Linked DNA regions of Homo sapiens: region 1 is linked to region 2. A link means that fine-mapping ties the variant in region 2 to the expression of a gene that starts in the linked region. Tissue or cell type: whole blood. Region 2 holds a variant in brackets; the other region holds the start of a gene. All regions are shown on one strand. Distances are between the middles of the regions.

Region 1 (8,093 bases), 130 kb after region 2:
CCCCAAGTCAAAAGTGTGATGGAGCTGAAAATGAAAATTAACTTTATTCATCAATACATTAAACAAATATTTATTTAGTACTACTAAATGCCAGTAATTAGGTATAGCAGTAGTAAATAAAACAGGAGGGAAAAAAAAGCCCTCTTGGCCAAGTGCAGTGGTTCATATCTATAATCCCAGCACTGAGGCAAGGGGATCACTTGAGCCCAGGAGTTCGAGACCAGCCTGGCAATAAAGTGGGATCACTGTCTCTACAAAAAAAAAAAAGCAGCTGGGCATGTTGGTACACACCTGTAGTCCCAGCTACTCAGTAGGCTGAGGTGCAAGAATCATTGAGCCCAGAGAAGTCAAGGCTGAGGTGAGCCATGATTGTGCCACTGCACTCCAGCCTGGGCAACAGAGTAAACCTGTTTCAAAAAAAAAAAAAATTTAAAAATCTAAAAACCCCTCCTTTCATGAAGCTTTCTTTCAAGTGAGGGAACACCAACAAATAAGGAAGTAAAACAATTAGAATGTCAGATGGTTATGTATGCCATGGAAAAAATAAAGCAAGAAAAGGAGACGAAGTGTTGGTGGAGAATTATAATTTTGAATAAGGTTAAGGTCCTCTTGAGCAACGACCTGAAAGGCATGAGGAGGCAAAGCCTGGAGAACATCTGGGAAAAAAGCAGGCAGGCAGGACCTGTGCCAAGGTCCTACGGCAGGAGTGTGCCTGGTCTCGAGCAGTGAGACTTGTGAGGCCAGTGTAAGGTGGAGAACAGTGACCGCTGAGCTCAGAGAGGAGGGCAGGAAGGCACAACATCAAGTAGGACCTTAAAAGTCACTCAAAGGACTCTGCTTTTCACCCCCAAGAGAGCAGGAGCCACTGGACAGTTCTGAGTAGAGGATCACCCTGGCAGCTTACTGATAACAGACTGTGGAATAAAGGGGTAGAGGGTGGAAACTGAGAAACTGCTTAGAAGTCAACTGCAATAACTGCAATTGCATAGTCAGGGGTGACAGTGTCTTGAATCAGTGACAGTAATGGAGGTGACTGGATTCTGGATCTATACTGAAGATAGAAGCAACAGCATTTTCTAGTGGATTGTATGAGAGCAAAGAAACAACAACAAAAAGCCTCCAGTGTTTTTGGCATCAACAGCTTGCGGGATGGAGTTGCCACTGGCTGAGGGAGGGAAGACCACTAGGTTGCAGGAGGGGGAAATGTGGGGGGAAAGCTGGTGTTCTACTTTGGACAAGTTAAGTTTGAGATGCCTATCAGACATCCAAGCGGGGATGTCAAGAAACAGTTGGATACACAAGTCCAGTTCAGAGTAGAGGTAAGGGCTAGAAACATCAATGTGATAGTTATCGATATGCAGATGTGCTTAAAGCCAGGAGACTGCCTAGGATCACCAGGGGAGTAAACGTAGAGGCTTCTCTACATTAATAAAAAGGTAAAGCCCAGAAGGAGAGAAGCAATATTTGCACAGATCAGACAACAACTGGGGTTCCACGTGTAGTTTAGGCACCACACCTCAAAGAAATAACCAGAAAATATTAAACAGGACAAGCAGGGGTTTCCAAATCCACTCAGCTCAAGCTACCCTCCCCACCACTCCACTGGAGCTCCTTGCCAAGGTCAAGGGCGCTCTGCATCATGCCAAAGTCGATGGTCATTTTTCTGCCTTCATCTTACTGAAGCTCTCAGTAGCAGCTGACACAGGTGACCACCACCTCCTCCTTGAAACACTTACTTCTACAAAACTACACATTTCCCAGTCTCCCCTTCCATCAGTGCCCACTACTCTTTCTTCTTTGCTGGGTTCCCCTCCTCTTCTTGGATGACAAATGCTAAGACTGCCTCAGGTCCTCAGCCTAGTTATCTTCTCTGTTCTTTCTCTCACAATTTGATCTCACCTAGTCCCAAATAACGACAGTAAATTCACCTGCAATCTCCATCCTAGTATCCATGCAACTGCTAACTACTCAACATCTCCATTTGGTATGTATTAGAACTTCAAATGTTCACTATTGAAAATAAAAACCTTGGGCCGGGTGCAGTGGCTCATGCCTGTAATCCCAGCACTTTGGGAGGCCGAGGTGGGTGGATCACAAGATCAGATCGAGACCATACCGGCCAACATAGTGAAACTCCGTCTCTACTAAAAATACAAAAATTAGCTGGTGTGGTGGCACGTGCCTGTAGTCCCAGCTACTGGGGAGGCTGAGGCAGGAGAATCGCTTGAACCCGAGAGGTTGCAGTGAGCCAACATCAGGCCATTGCACGCGACCTCAAAAAAAAATCTTGATTCTTTTTGCTCACTACGTTCCTCCTCTCCACCTTTCAATGTGTTCCTTCTTGATTCTTCTCCATGTCAGTTAGCAGCACCACCGTGCACCCACTTGTTCAGACTCAAAACTGAAGAGTTCTCTGATTCCTTCCTTTTTGTCACCTCAACTTCCCTCTACCAACAGTCCAATCCATTAGCAAGTTCCATTACCCTATCTACAAAGTATGTCCTGAATCTCACTGTGTTTTAGCATCTTCTTTGTTACCAGGCAAGCCCAAGCCACCGAAGTCGCTCACCTGGACTACCTAATTCATCCCGACTTGAACCCTCCCCAGCTAGACATTTGTCGCACAGCAGCCCACACAACAGTGACTTCCAGCAGCACTAAGAATAAAACTTGAACTTCCTACCTTTCCTACCAGGCCTACCTCTCCAGCCTCATCCACCCTGCTCTCGCCCCCTCACTCAGCATAGTGCAATCACACCTGTGCCTCTTCCGTCCTCCTACATGTCCAGTGCATTCCCATGTGGGGCTTTTGCACTTTCTGTTCTCAGCACTGAAAACTCTTCCCCACATCTTCACACGACTGGCTCCTCTTCATCATCCAAGTTTCTGCTCATATGTCACCTCTTGTAGAGAGGCCTTCCCCGAAGGTTTTATCCAAAACACTTTCTCTCAATATTTTATCCAAAACAGCTCTCTTCTAATCATTCACCACGAAAAGTACTTTTTGACTACCTTAAATTGCCTTATTTGCTCACTTGTTTATTTCCCTTTTCCCCAACAGGGAACCTTATCTGAAATGTCCACTATAGATCCCAATACTTAAAACAGAGTTGCTTGCACACAGTAACTTCTCAATACATGTGGAGAATGAATGAACAAAATGAGAAAGCTCATGGGGTGTGAAGAACAACTGGAAGACAGGGAATTATTCAAACCAGAATTTTAGGAAGAAAGGAAAAACCTAAGCACTGGCTCCAAATTTTTGTAGAAGCAGACGCATGGAAGGAGAGCTATATTTATTCTGTTTTCCAAGGGCAGGACTCAGGCCAACAGTGGCATGCTATAAGGTGACATATTTGAAAACCACTTTCTAACAAGTGCAGAGTCTCAAAATGGAAATGAGCTTCCACAAAAGGTAGTGCTCAGTGGTAGTGCTTGGACAGAGGCTGGATCATCACGTATAAGAAACAAAAGACAAGTTTCAGAGCCTAAGTGTGTCATGCTGGACAAGTCACCCTTCCCCTTGCTGGATCTCAGCTGCATATTAAACGCATTATTAAATCTCAGCTGCATTACTAAACACGAGAAGATTGGAAGAGAATTACCGACTTGTCCAAGCCCTCTCCAACTTTAAGACTAGGAATCAGGTTAAGTTCAACAAGTCTCGAAAATACTGTCCTCTACACCATAAATTCTGCAGATGCGAAGTCTGTATCTCCCTTGTTCACTGTTGTATCCCTAAGACCTGGCAAATGATAGGGACTCCACAAACAGCTGATGGCCATATGGGGGAGAGATGTGTCAACGAATCTGCCACGTTTTCCTCCTCGATGTACGGCAGGGACTGTGAACACCCAAAGAGGCCCAAATGGTTGCGTTCTCTGGAACAGAGAACTTTACAAAAGTTCCAGCAAAGCTCACTGACCCTGATTATCCCTTGGTCCAGTTTCTGGCGCGGTGACGGCAGTGTCCTTGTCTCCCAATGCCGACACCTCCCCCGGAAATTGTCAGCCGCCTCTGGGCCTCCCCGAGTCGGGGGGTGACCAGCGTCCAGCTAAAACAGAGGCTAGGGCCGAGGAGAGGGGCGGCTGCCCCACGAGGAGGACGACCCCCAAGAGCTCGAGAGTGAGGGGGCCGGGAAGTGACTCACCTCAGGAAGGGACTTGCCGCAGCTGAGGCTGTAAATCTTCACCTCATTGAGGCTGGAGACCTGCATGGCGCCGCACAACACTGTTCAAGTCCCGGGTCCTTTCCCACCAGCGTGCTCGAGCACCGTAATCCCGGGACCTCCGAGCCCCTGCTCCGCGGCGTGCGGCCGCTGGCGCCGACTGATGACGCACTTCCTGGAGCCGGAACACGCGGGCAAGTTCCCGGAAGAGGGAAGGTGGCTGAATCCGGGAAGAGCGGCGGCCGGGAGAAAAACTAGTGAGGCTCTGACAACCCGGCGTGGCTGTCGGCGACGCTGCTACGGGCAAGACTAGACACAAGCCGGGCGCGGTGGCTCACGCCTGTAATCCCAGCACTTTGGGAGGCTGAGGCGGGCGGATCACCTGAGGTCGGGAGTTCGAGACCAGCCTGACCAATATGGTGAAACCCCGTCTCTACTAAAAATACAAAAAAATTAGCCTTGCGTGGTGGCCGGCATCTGTAGTCCCAGCTACACGGGAGGTTGAGGCAGGAGAATTGCTTGAACCTGGGAGGCGGAGGTTGCAGTGAGCTGAGATCGCGCCGCTGCACTCCAGCCTGGGGGACAGAGCGAGATTCCCTCTCAAAAAAAAAAAAAAAAAAAAAAAAACTAGACACAGCTCTCCCTGCTGTTAGCATCCCGAGCGGCAGGAGGAGGCTTTCGAGTCTCTGCCCAGGCCGAGATGTCATCCTCCCGGGCGGGGGCGAGGCAGTTCAGCGAGTGAACCCAGCGAATGAAGGCGACCAGGGTGCGAATTCCGAGTGGAAGTGTATTCTCTTCTCTCCTCCAGTGTTTCTGCGATGTTACGTTAGAAGTACTGTAGGCCGGGTGCGGTGGCTCACGCCTGTAATCCTAACACTTTGGGAGGCCGAGGCGGGCGGATCACCTGAGGTCAGGAGTTCAAGACCAGCCTAGCCAAGATGGTGAAACCCCGTCTCTACTAAAAATACAAAAATCAGTCGGGCCTGGTGGCGCGCGCCTGTAATCTCAGCTACTCTGAAGGCTGAGGTGGGGGAATCGCCTGAACCCGGGAGGCAGAGGTTGCCGTCAGCTGAGATCGTGCCACTGCAGTCCAGCCTGGGCAACAGAGTGAGACTCCGTCTCAAAAAAAAAAAAAAAAAAAAAAGAAGACTGTGGCGTCATCTTCAACCCATTCCTATCTCTGGCCCTCACTTTCAGTATCTAAACCTGGATATTTCTAATTATGAAATATTTCCTTAAAGTAATCTGTTTTCATTCCTCCTGCTGAAACTCAAATACTTAACTATTTTTGGATTATAACTTTCCCAAGTGATCTTCTTACTTCCTTTGATTTAATGAACAAATTATTTTATGCCTTACTTTCTAAAACCCAAATATTATTGTTTTGCTCTCCTACCCACAACATTTTGGAAACTCTCAAATACCAACACCACATTGCATCAGAATTAGGTTGAGAGTTCTTCGTGGACCCTATATCATTTGTCCTTATATTCCCTATCCACCCCATCCACCCCTACCCAGAGTACCAGAACAGTGCCTGGCCTCTATTAGGCATTGCTACATATTTACATTTAGCCATGTACGTAGGGATATATTCCTTAACTCTGTCCTCAAATTTAAGATCCTCCACAAATTTTTAATTTTCTACACTGGTTACAGTTAAGAAAAACTGTAAACATCTTTGGGAAAGGTGGCATAATAGAATGGTTAGATCACAGACTCTGGCTTGGCTTGGTGGTGCAGGCCTATTGTCCTAGCTACTAGTGAAGCCGAAGCAGGAGAATCACTTGAGCCCAGGAGTTCTTGGCTGTAGCACGCAACGAGCGTTGGGTGTCCTCAGTTTGGCATCAATATGGTGACCCCACAAGAGCCAGGGACCACCATGTTACCTAAGGAGGTGTGAAGCGGCTCAGGTCAGAAATGGAGCAAGTCAAAACTCCCATGCTCACCAGTAATGGGATCATGCCTGTGACTAACACTGTACTCCAGCTTGGGCAACACAGCAAGACCCTATCTCTTGAAAAATAAATAAAGATCACAGACTCTGAAGCCAGACTGGCAAGATTCAAATCCCGACTGCCATTTTTAACTGAAAGACCTTAGGTAAGTTACCTAACCTCTCTGTACCTGTGTAAAATGGAGATAACAGTAGTATCCACTTCACAGAGTTATGAGGATGAAATACATTCATATTTATAAAACGTTTGGAACCCAGTACTTGGCACATAGTAAGACCATGTAAGTGTTTGTAAAATAAAACTGAAAATAAAGCCATATACCAAATAAGTGGAAATGTATCCAAATTCCATTAACATTTCCTTTTTAACAGTTTTATTGAGATATAATTAACATACTGTAAAATGTCCCCATTGAATGTACAATGTAATGACTTCTAGTGTATTCAGAGTTCTGCAACCATCACCACAATCATTTTTAGAACAAAAAGAAACCCCAGCCTCAATTAGCATTCACTCCATGCCCCATCCCCCACCCAAGCCCTAGACAACCACTAATCTACTTTCTGTTGGCGTTGTGGGTTTTTTCCATGGGGGCATCTCACTTTGTTGTCCAGGTTGGAATACAGTGGCATGATCATGACCCACTGCAGCCTCAAACTCGAGCTCAAGCTGTCCTTCCACCTTATCCTCCTGAGTAGCTGGGAGTACAGGCACACCACCAGAGCTGGCTGTTTTGTTTTTATAGAGATGGGTCTACCAGTTAAGCATCCCTAATCCAAACATTTCAAGTCCGAAATGCTCCAGTGAGCATTTCCTTTTGAGCATCACATTGACATTCAGAAAGTTTCAGATTTTGGAGCATTTTAGATTTTGGATTTTCAGATTAGGGATACTCAACCTGTATTTTGTAAGGGCACCAATCCCATTCATGAGAGCTCTGCCCTTAAGACCTAATCATGGGCTGAGCACGGTGGCTCACGCCTGTAATCCCAGCACTTTGGGAGGCCAAGGCAGGCAGATCACGAGGTCGGGAGTTCAAGACCAGCCTGGTGAACATAGTGAAACCCCTGTCTCTACTAAAAATGCAAAAATTAGCCGGGCATGGTGGCACGCACCTGTAGTCCCAGCTACTCAGGAGGCTGAGGCAGGAGAATTGCTTGAACCCGGGAGGCAGAGGTTGTGGTGAGCAGAGATGGCGCCACTGCACTCCAGCCTGGGCAATAGACCGAGACTCCGTCTCAAAAACAAAAACAAACAAACAAAAAAAAACTAATCATGACCAGGCGCAGTAGCTCATACCTCTAATCCCAGCACTTTGGGAGGCTGAGGCGGGCAGATCACTTGAGGCCAGGAGTTCTAGACCAGCCTGGCCAACACAGCAAAACCCTGTTTGTACTAAAAATACAAAAATTAGCCAGGTGTGGTGGTTGGCACCTGTAGTTCCAGCTAATCTGGAGGCTGAGGCACAGGAATCGCTTAAACCCGGGAGGCGGAGGTTGCAGTGAGCCAAGATTGTGCCATTGCACTCCAGCCTGGGCAACAAGAGTGAAACTCCGTCTCAAAAAAAAAAAAAAGGCTGGGCATGGTGGCTCATGCCTATAATTCCAGCACATTGGGAAGCCGAGGAGGACAGATCATGAGGTCAAGAGATCGAGACCATCCTGGCCAACATGGTGAAACCCCATCTCTACTAAAAATACAAAAATTAGCTGGGCATGGTGGCACACACCTGTAGTCCCAGTTACTGAGGTGGCTGAGGCAGGAGAATCGCTTGAACCCAGGAGGTGGAGGTTGCAGTGAGCCAGGAGGTGGAGGTTGCAGTGAGCCAAGTTTGCGCCACTGTACTCCAGCCTGGCAAAAGAGCGAGACTCTGTCTCAAAAAACAAAAAAACAGAAAAGTGAGTTTACGCCATAAATCACTGATTTCAGGACATTCATTTTTTTTTAGCATCTCTGAAAGGATGAGT
Region 2 (8,102 bases):
CTACCCTTCCTCCCCTGGCCTGGAGGCTGTGGACCACCACCACACAGGCCCATGGGCTCAGGGCTCTCGGGCTTGCAACAGGACATGGAGAAAAGACTGAGAAGCCCAGCCCACAGTGGGGGTTTCTGGAATGTTCCCTTGGGAATGGAAGGAACAGGGACCTCTGCAAAGGCTGATTTGATTTTGTTGCCAAGCCTTTTATATAAGCCTTTCTCAGTCCCCCCACAGCCCCCCTACACTTGAATTTCTGCTTCTGGATATGTGTGCACAGATGGATAAAAATCAAACATAGAATGTGATGTCCCTCTCCAGAACATGTAAAGAACTACAATTCCTCAATGACAGCAACAGGAAAAAGCCCAGGCTGGGTGCCGTGGCTCATGCCTGTAATCCCAGCACTTTGGGAGGCTGAGGTGGGTGGGTCACCTGAGGTCAGGAGTTCGAGACCAGCCTGGCCAACATGGCAAAATACCATCTCTACTAAACATACAAAAAATTAGCCAGGTGTGGCGAATGCCTGTAATCCCAGCTACTCGGGAGGCAGAGGCAGGAGAATTGCTTGAACCCGGGAGGCGGAGGTCGCAGTGAGCCGAGATCACGCCACTGCACTCCAGCTTGGGCAACAAGAGAGAAACTCTGTCTCGAAAGAAAGAAAAAAAGTTAAACACAGAATTACCCTATGACCCAGCAGTTTCACGCCCGGGTATATATCCAAAAGAACTGAAAGCAGAGACTCCAACAGAGAGTGCACACCCATGTTCACAGCAGTGTTATTCACAGTCACCAGAAGGTGGAAGCGACCCACTTGTCCCTCCGCAGAGGGACGCATCAGTGCAGTGAGGCCCAGTCACACAGTAGATGCTAGTCAGCCATGGGCAGGCATGAAACTCGAATACCTGTTACCACACCGGTGAACCTCAAGAACACTACGTTAAGTGAAAAAACCAGACACAAAGGGACAAACTCCTCGAAAACACCACGTTAAGTGAAAAAACCAGACACAAAGGGACAGACTCCTCGACAACACCACGTTAAGTGAAAAAACCAGACACAAAGGGACAAACTCCTCGAAAACACCACGTTAAGTGAAAAAACCAGACACAAAGGGACAGACTCCTCGACAACACCACGTTAAGTGAAAAAACCAGACACAAAGGGACAGACTCCTCGACAACACCACGTTAAGTGAAAAAACCAGACACAAAGGGACAGACTCCTCGACAACACTACGCTAAGTGAAAAAACCAGACACAAAGGGACAGACTCCTCGACAACACTACATTAAGTGAAAAAACCAGACACAAAGGGACATGACTCCTCGACAACACTACGCTAAGTGAAAAAACCAGACACAAAGGGACATGACTCCACTGATATGAGGCACCCGGAAGAGGCAAATTCATAGAGAGAAAAGTCCAGTGGCGGTTACCAGGGGCTGGGAGGAGGAGGAAATAGAGAGTGTTTTGTGGGTGCAAAGTTTCAGCAGGGGATAATGAACAAGTTCTGGGGGTGGATGTTGGTGATGGCTGCACAACAATGAATGGATTCCTGCCACTGAGCTGCATGTTTGAAAATGGTTAAAATAAGGCCGGGTGCGGTGGCTCACGCCTGTAATCCCAGCACTTTGGGAGGCCGAGGCGGGTGAATCACCTGAGGTCGGGAGTTCAAGACCAGCCTGACCAACATGAAGAAACCCCATCTCTATTAAAAATACAAAATTAGCCTGGCGTGGTGGTGCATGCCTGTAATCGCAGCTACTCAGGAGGCTGAGGCAGGAGAATTGCTTGAACCTGGGAGGCGGAGGTTATGGTGAGCTGAGATCACGCCATTGCACTCCAGCCTGGGCAACAAAAGCGAAACTCCGTCTTAAAAAAAAAAAAAAGAAAAGAAAATGGTTAAAATAGCAGAGGAATTCTCCCCATGCAAGGGACAGGCCATTTCTCCTTGTCTGATGAAAAGTTCTGCAGATGCCCCAGGTGACAGTGTGATGCTTGTTGAGCAGTGGGCCAGGCCCAGCCTGGGATAGGGTCCCAGTGTTGTGATGGAGGGGAGGCTGGTGTCCAGGACGCCAGGGGCACCCAGTGCTCCTTTGGGTGCTGGCTTCACGCGTGGAAGTCGCGCAAGAGTCACGGAGGTAAATTCAAGTTGAGTCATTTGCAGGATGTGCAGAGCGGGGTGGGCCCTCCAAACTTGGCAACCTTGGAGGAAATGGTTTTATATTTTTTGACTCTCATGTAACCTAGACACTCAGCTGGGACTCTATTTCCTATTTCAAGACTTTTCCAAACAGTTGTGTTTCCAAAGACCTTCCTAAACACACAGCCAGGGGAAGGAACAGGACCTGCTGCTCCAATTCCCTCGGCTCCCAACGCCCCTCAAGTGTTTGCACAGGAAAATGGTAGCGTAGGACACCAGGCGGGCAGGAAGCCGCAGGAATCTCAGAAGCTGCTTTCTGGATTTGACCTCAGGCAATTAAAAAATAGCAAAATAGATGGTGAGTGAAGAGGGTTTATGAGCTGCAGACCCGCAAGGCTCTTGCAGGCACCGAAAGACACAACGGAGAGTCTGCCTGTGCGCACGCAGGCCTAGCAACCAGCATTTGCTCATTGTGCATTCCTGCACTCTCGGGGAACTTAGGGAGCCTCCCGTGGGGCAGGCAGAGGCTGGGAACTAGAGCAGGAAGGCCCGCGGGTCCATCCCATGGTCTCACTCCCTTTCCTCTTGTCCCCTTCCCCTTGGGGCATTCCCAAGGCTGCAGATACCGCTTACCGAGCGGGGCCCTGGCGGGGAGGGATGCGGGCCACAGCCAGATGGGACATCTGGTTGCTCTCTCCCGAAACACCCAACTCATTTCCTTCACCCTGTGTGGCTGCAAGGGCCAGCTGGCCTCCCTCCGGGGGTCCCTCAGCGTAAGCCGGTGGGGAGCTCCGAGGCTTGGTTTCTTCTGTCTCAGCAGACCATTTGCCTTGGTGCCTTATATTGTGTCTTTTTTTTTTTAATGGATTTTAATTTTTCCAACAGTTTTGGATTTACAGAAAAATTGAGAAGATAGTACAGGGAGTTCCCATAAACCCCACATCCAGGTTCCTCCATTATTAACATGGGGCATGAGTCCGGCCCATTTGTTCCGATGAATGGACTGACAGTCATTCTTCAGGTCCACTGTTGGCTCAGATCTCCTCAGTTTTCACCTTAAGTCCTTTTCTGTTCCAGGATCCCCTGCAGAAAGCCACAGGCCATTTAGTCATGGCCTCTTTAGGCCCCTCTGGCTAGGACAGTTCCTTGGGCTTTTTTTTTTTTTTTGTCTCCCTCTTTAGACTGGGAGCTCCTTAAGAGCAAAGGTAAAGCTCGCCCCCGCGAGTCCCCCCATGGTGCCTGACGTCACGCTCTGCCCATCCCAGGCCTCCATGGGTGATGAGAGGCCTGAGTTGAGGCACCAGCCCCAAATGTGTGCGATCACGCCATTGAGCAGGGAGAGATGGGGCTGGGGGGAATTTCACTTGCTTTTGTTACATTTCTGTAACATTTATGTCTTTAAAAATAATCAGCATACGTTTCTCTTCCAATTAGGAAAACTGCAGCAAATCAAGCCGGGAGCTGGGGCCTGGGCAGTTCATGATCTGGCTGGGTTCCCCGCTCAGGCAGTTCACGCGCACAGACCGCCCCCTGGAAGAACTGCGGCTGGAATGAGCAATTCTCCTGAGAAAGCAAAGACACGGACTCACAAGGGAGTTCTGGGCAGAAACGGAGACGGAGATTGGAGTGAAGCGTCCACAAGCCAAGGAGTGCCAAGGAGTGCCAAAGATTGCCAGCAACCCCCAGACGCTGGAGGAGGCCGGGAAGGAGCCTCCCCAGGAGCCTTTGGAGGGAGCAGGGCCCTGCTGACACCTCGATGTCAGACACCTGGCCTCCAGGACGGTGAGAGCGGGTTCTGTTGTTGCGAGCCACCCAGCTCTTGGCACTTGGTTACGCGGGTCACAGGACACCAGTAGAGCCATATCTACTCATTCATTTCAGAAACGTTGTGCCAGTACGTACCAGGCACTTTCAAAGACACCGGGGATACGGAAATAAAGAATAAATGGGATCCTTGCTCTCAGTGGAGTTTCCATTCTAGTAGAGGAAGATGAGCAAAAATAAATAAATGATAACTTCTGTCTGGGCGCGATGGCTCACATCTGTAATCTCAGCACTTTGGGAAGCTGAGGCGTGCAGATTACCTGAGGTCAGGAGTGCGGGACCAGCCTGGCCAACATGGTGAAACCCTGCCTCTACAAAAAATACAAAAATTAGCCAGGTGTACTGGCACACGCCTGTAGTCCCAGCTACTCAGTAGGCTGAGGCAGGAGGATCGCTTGAACCCGGGAGGCGGAGGCTGCAGTGAGCCGAGATTATGCCACCACACTCCAGCGTGGGCGACAGAGTGAGACTCAGTCGCAAAAAAATAATAAAAATAAATAAATGATAAGCTATGACAGCAGGGAGAGCTGTGAGATCCACACAACAGAGGTGTCAGAGAGGGTGTGGGTTCCCTTAGGCTGCCCTTGCCAGGCACTACAAGGTGGGTGGCTGAAAAGGAAGCACCACCAGGCGGCGACTGGGTTCGGCCCATGGGCCATTGTTTGCCGCCCTGCTCTGTATAACAGGTGCCTCTCCTGGGGGCACACAACGGGCCATGCTGATCTCCCTGTTTTGTAGGGGGAAAGTGAGGCAGGAGGTTGCCTGACTGGTCCCTGAGCAACCATGGGCGTGGACACAGGCACGTCTCTCCAGAGTTCTTTCTGGTTGGAGGTGGCTTGTCTTGGTCCATGGACCTGCAGGGCCTGACTTCTGATGGGAAGGAAACTCGTAGCCACTCTGCTGGGGGACAGGGTCTCTGGGCAGAGCGCCAGTGTCTTCTCACCTGTCCCAGAGCCCTGGCCCACAGCCTCCTCCCACCCTACCTGGCTCTGTCCTCCGCTGCACCCAGGCTGCATTTCCAGGAAATGCCTCTCGTTTCCCCACACAGGGAAGGAAGCAGGAGGCCCTGAGCCGGGATCAGCCTCCAGCTCAGCTCCCAGGAAAATGGGTGCACC[T/C]CGCCTCACCCCTACCCTTGGGCCCACCCTGGCTGAGGCTCAGATCACCACATGCGCAGCTCTCCTTGGTCCCATGCCGACTGGAGGCCAGAATTCGGGCTGTTTTGAGCTAATACAGATGAGTTTCTTCCCCTCTCTCATGCCCTTCTCCATTCATTCACTTATTCATTAAGCCTGTATTTAGTAAGCACCTGCTGTGCACAGCGCTGTGCTGGGCGGCAGGTGCCTTGATGACGAGGCCTTGCCATGGAGTGTCCACCTCGTGGCCGCCAGGCCCTCCAGGGCACAAGTGTCTTCACAAGACTTAGGCTTTGAAGGAAAATGAGTCCAGTTTGGCGGGACTGTGGGAAAGAGGGGTGCTCCACTCCACGTCCAAGCTGGACAGGAAGACCCCACCCTCCCCAGGAAAACCAGGCAACGGGAGGCTCACCTGACTCCACCTTCACAGTGTGAGGAAACTGAGGCAGGGGCTGAGCGGCAGCTTCCGAGACCCTCCAGCCCCTGGTCCTGCCTTGGCTGCGACTGGGCCTGTGGCACAGCAGGGACACCACAGCCCAATCGTGAGCAGGAACATGGGGATATGTGACCCCCTCAAAGCCCCTCTTAGCAGAGGTGGGGCTCTCAGACCTGAGCAAGATTCTGCTCATGTGGCCCCACACAGACAAGGGGTCCTGCTTCCTGCACTCCAGGAGGTGTGTGAGGTGCCTGTGGTGGGTCCAGCCCTGAGAAGAAGCAACGGCGGAGTGACAGGGTCTTTCCTGTCCAATCAGGACCATGGAGCTAGAGCAGCACCTGAGGAGCTTTGTGTCCTCATCCAGGGCCACAGTCCCCATTGCCCCATTCATTCAGTTGCTGCTGCCTGCCAGAGACTCACATGGAGCCTCTGAACATGGCGTGCCCCACGTCCCACTGACAGCGCTGTGTGTGCTCCTGTTTGTGGAAACCAGGGCAAGGAGGGTGAGTGACTTGTCCACTGTCATGCAGCTGCTGCGCGGTGGGGCTGGGATTGCACCCAGGGACTGACCCAAGCCCCTGCCCAGCCCCAGGACCCCAGATTCTGGGCTGGCCCCTGTGCCTGAGTTTTAGGACCCCCACCACCGCCCCAGCATTGCCACGCTGTCTGCGTTTCTAGGCTGAATTTTGTTCTCATGGAGGGAGGGACCGTCCTACCTCTTATGCACCCACACCCCCATCCTGCTGCCCGGGACAGTGCCAGGCTGCCGGGGGCATTTGATGAGATGTGACGTGTAAAGAATCTGATGGTGCCTGGTACAGAGTCGTTCCTGCAGGATGCTCAGCCTCACCCCTCCCCGCCCATCCCGCCAACATCTCTGGCCCAGTGCAGACCCAGCATAACCATAGATGTGGGTATGGCAGGAGCATTATTCTGGTGGGTCCTGCCCACAGGACAGTCCTCTATCCGCATGACAAGATGCCACCACAGTGGCCTCTACAACGTACAGTAAGCACTCACTGTATGTACAGCAGGAGTAACCGTGCTCTTTGCCATGGCAGAAGGTGGCAGTCGCAGCAGTGTTGGCTGTCATGGCTGCTGGTGAGGCGCTGCGCCTCTGTTACAATGGGAACCAGCAAAATGAAATTTACTTATTGTTGCAAGATAATAGCCAAGCCTTTTAAACATATGCTTTTCAAACAAACTCATCGCCATGGTAACCCTCTTAAAACAAGATGCAACCTGGCTTAAAGACCCTGAGAGCTAATTCTAGTAGTGCTTTGTATTTAGTTACGCCTTTCTTCTGAATTTAATGGACTTCACTCACTAGGCTCCACTAACATCCTCTGAAGTCTTAGGGGACAGATACTATTAAACCCATTTTACAGATGTAGACACCAAGGCACGGACGGGTTAAGTGACTTGGCCACTAACTGAAATCTTCGCCATGAGCAAGTCCGGACCAGACCCAGGTCTTGTTTCCTTCTGTTGTCTTCACTCATCAGACCGTCCTGGACTTTGAAAGCCCATCATCATGAAAGGCTTAGAGTTTCCCACAGCTTGGCCTGGGGAGCCCAGATGCTGCTGCCATTTGCGTGCAGGGAAGGCTGCTGGGCCAGGAGGCTGCAGAGGCGAGCAAAGGGCAAGGAGGAAGTTGTGGCTGAGGTTCCCGGGATGAAAAGATCCCCACGGAGAGCTCCATGGGCTGGGACAGCAATGCAAGGACCCAAGTGCCCCACAACTCACTCTGGTACAGCTGACACCAAGCCACACCCGCCGGATTACAGGGGAATCTTTTACTCCCTGCCAGCCCCAGGGGCCAATGGCGTCTTCCTTGAGCATCCGGGCAAAGCCCTGCCTCGGGCCTTTGCACCAGCCAGTGGTTCTCAGGTGGGGCCCCAGGCCAGCTGCAGCAGCAGCATCTGTGATGTTGGAAATGCAGGTTTTCTGCCCCCACCTCAGACCCACTGAATTAGAAACTCCACCTTACATGCCCTCCAGGGGCTTCTGATGCACCCTGGAGATCTCTGCCTAGAATGTTCCTCCCGGATACCCTGGCCAACTGCCTCCCCTCCTTCCAGGCTTTGCTCACTTCTCACCTTCTCGGAGAGGCCTCTTCTGAGCCAGCCGATTTCTTGCATTCTCAGCCCTGCCCTCCCAGCTCTCCTGCCTGCCCAGTGGCTCGTGTGGCCTGCATTGTGTCTACTGGATGCATCGTCTGTCTCCCCCGTGAAACATAAACTCAAGTAAACGGCTCTTTTTGCTGAGTCAACTGCAGAGTGCTCGATAAGTAGTGCTTGCAGGAACTGTGACTTCTGGCTCAGGTTGATAGACGGGCGAATGAGGAGTAGCAGCAAGTGTTCGGGTGGGTGGGATGGGGTGGATGAGTTTTGCTTTGAGCATGTGGAACTCAAGGTGCCAGCGGCCACCCAGATGAAAGGCCCAGAGGCTATCTGGGAGGCAGCTCTGGGACACTGAAGAGAGGTGACACTATGGAAGGAAGAGTGACAGGCTTAAAGAAGACATCCTGGAGCATGTTAACACCTGCGTGGGTGAGGATGAGGAGTCGGCAG

The links. PIP is the estimated chance that this variant, and not a neighbour inherited with it, causes the effect.
Region 1: NOL10 starts here. The variant in region 2 is fine-mapped to the expression of NOL10 in whole blood (TOPMed, PIP 0.97).

The regions. Positions count from the first base shown.
Region 1 is chr2:10,685,646-10,693,738 of GRCh38, forward strand. NOL10 (nucleolar protein 10) reads right to left here and starts at 4,330. Exons shown (of 21, transcript NM_024894.4): 1 at 4,151-4,330. The coding sequence starts at 4,216. It also overlaps the pseudogene RN7SL832P. RefSeq lists enhancers at 3,777-3,836, 3,897-4,176.
Region 2 is chr2:10,553,086-10,561,187 of GRCh38, forward strand. No RefSeq gene overlaps it. Among named protein-coding and RNA genes, the nearest start is that of ODC1-DT, 110 kb to the left of the region's middle. The variant T/C (reference allele first, on the strand shown) is at 5,076.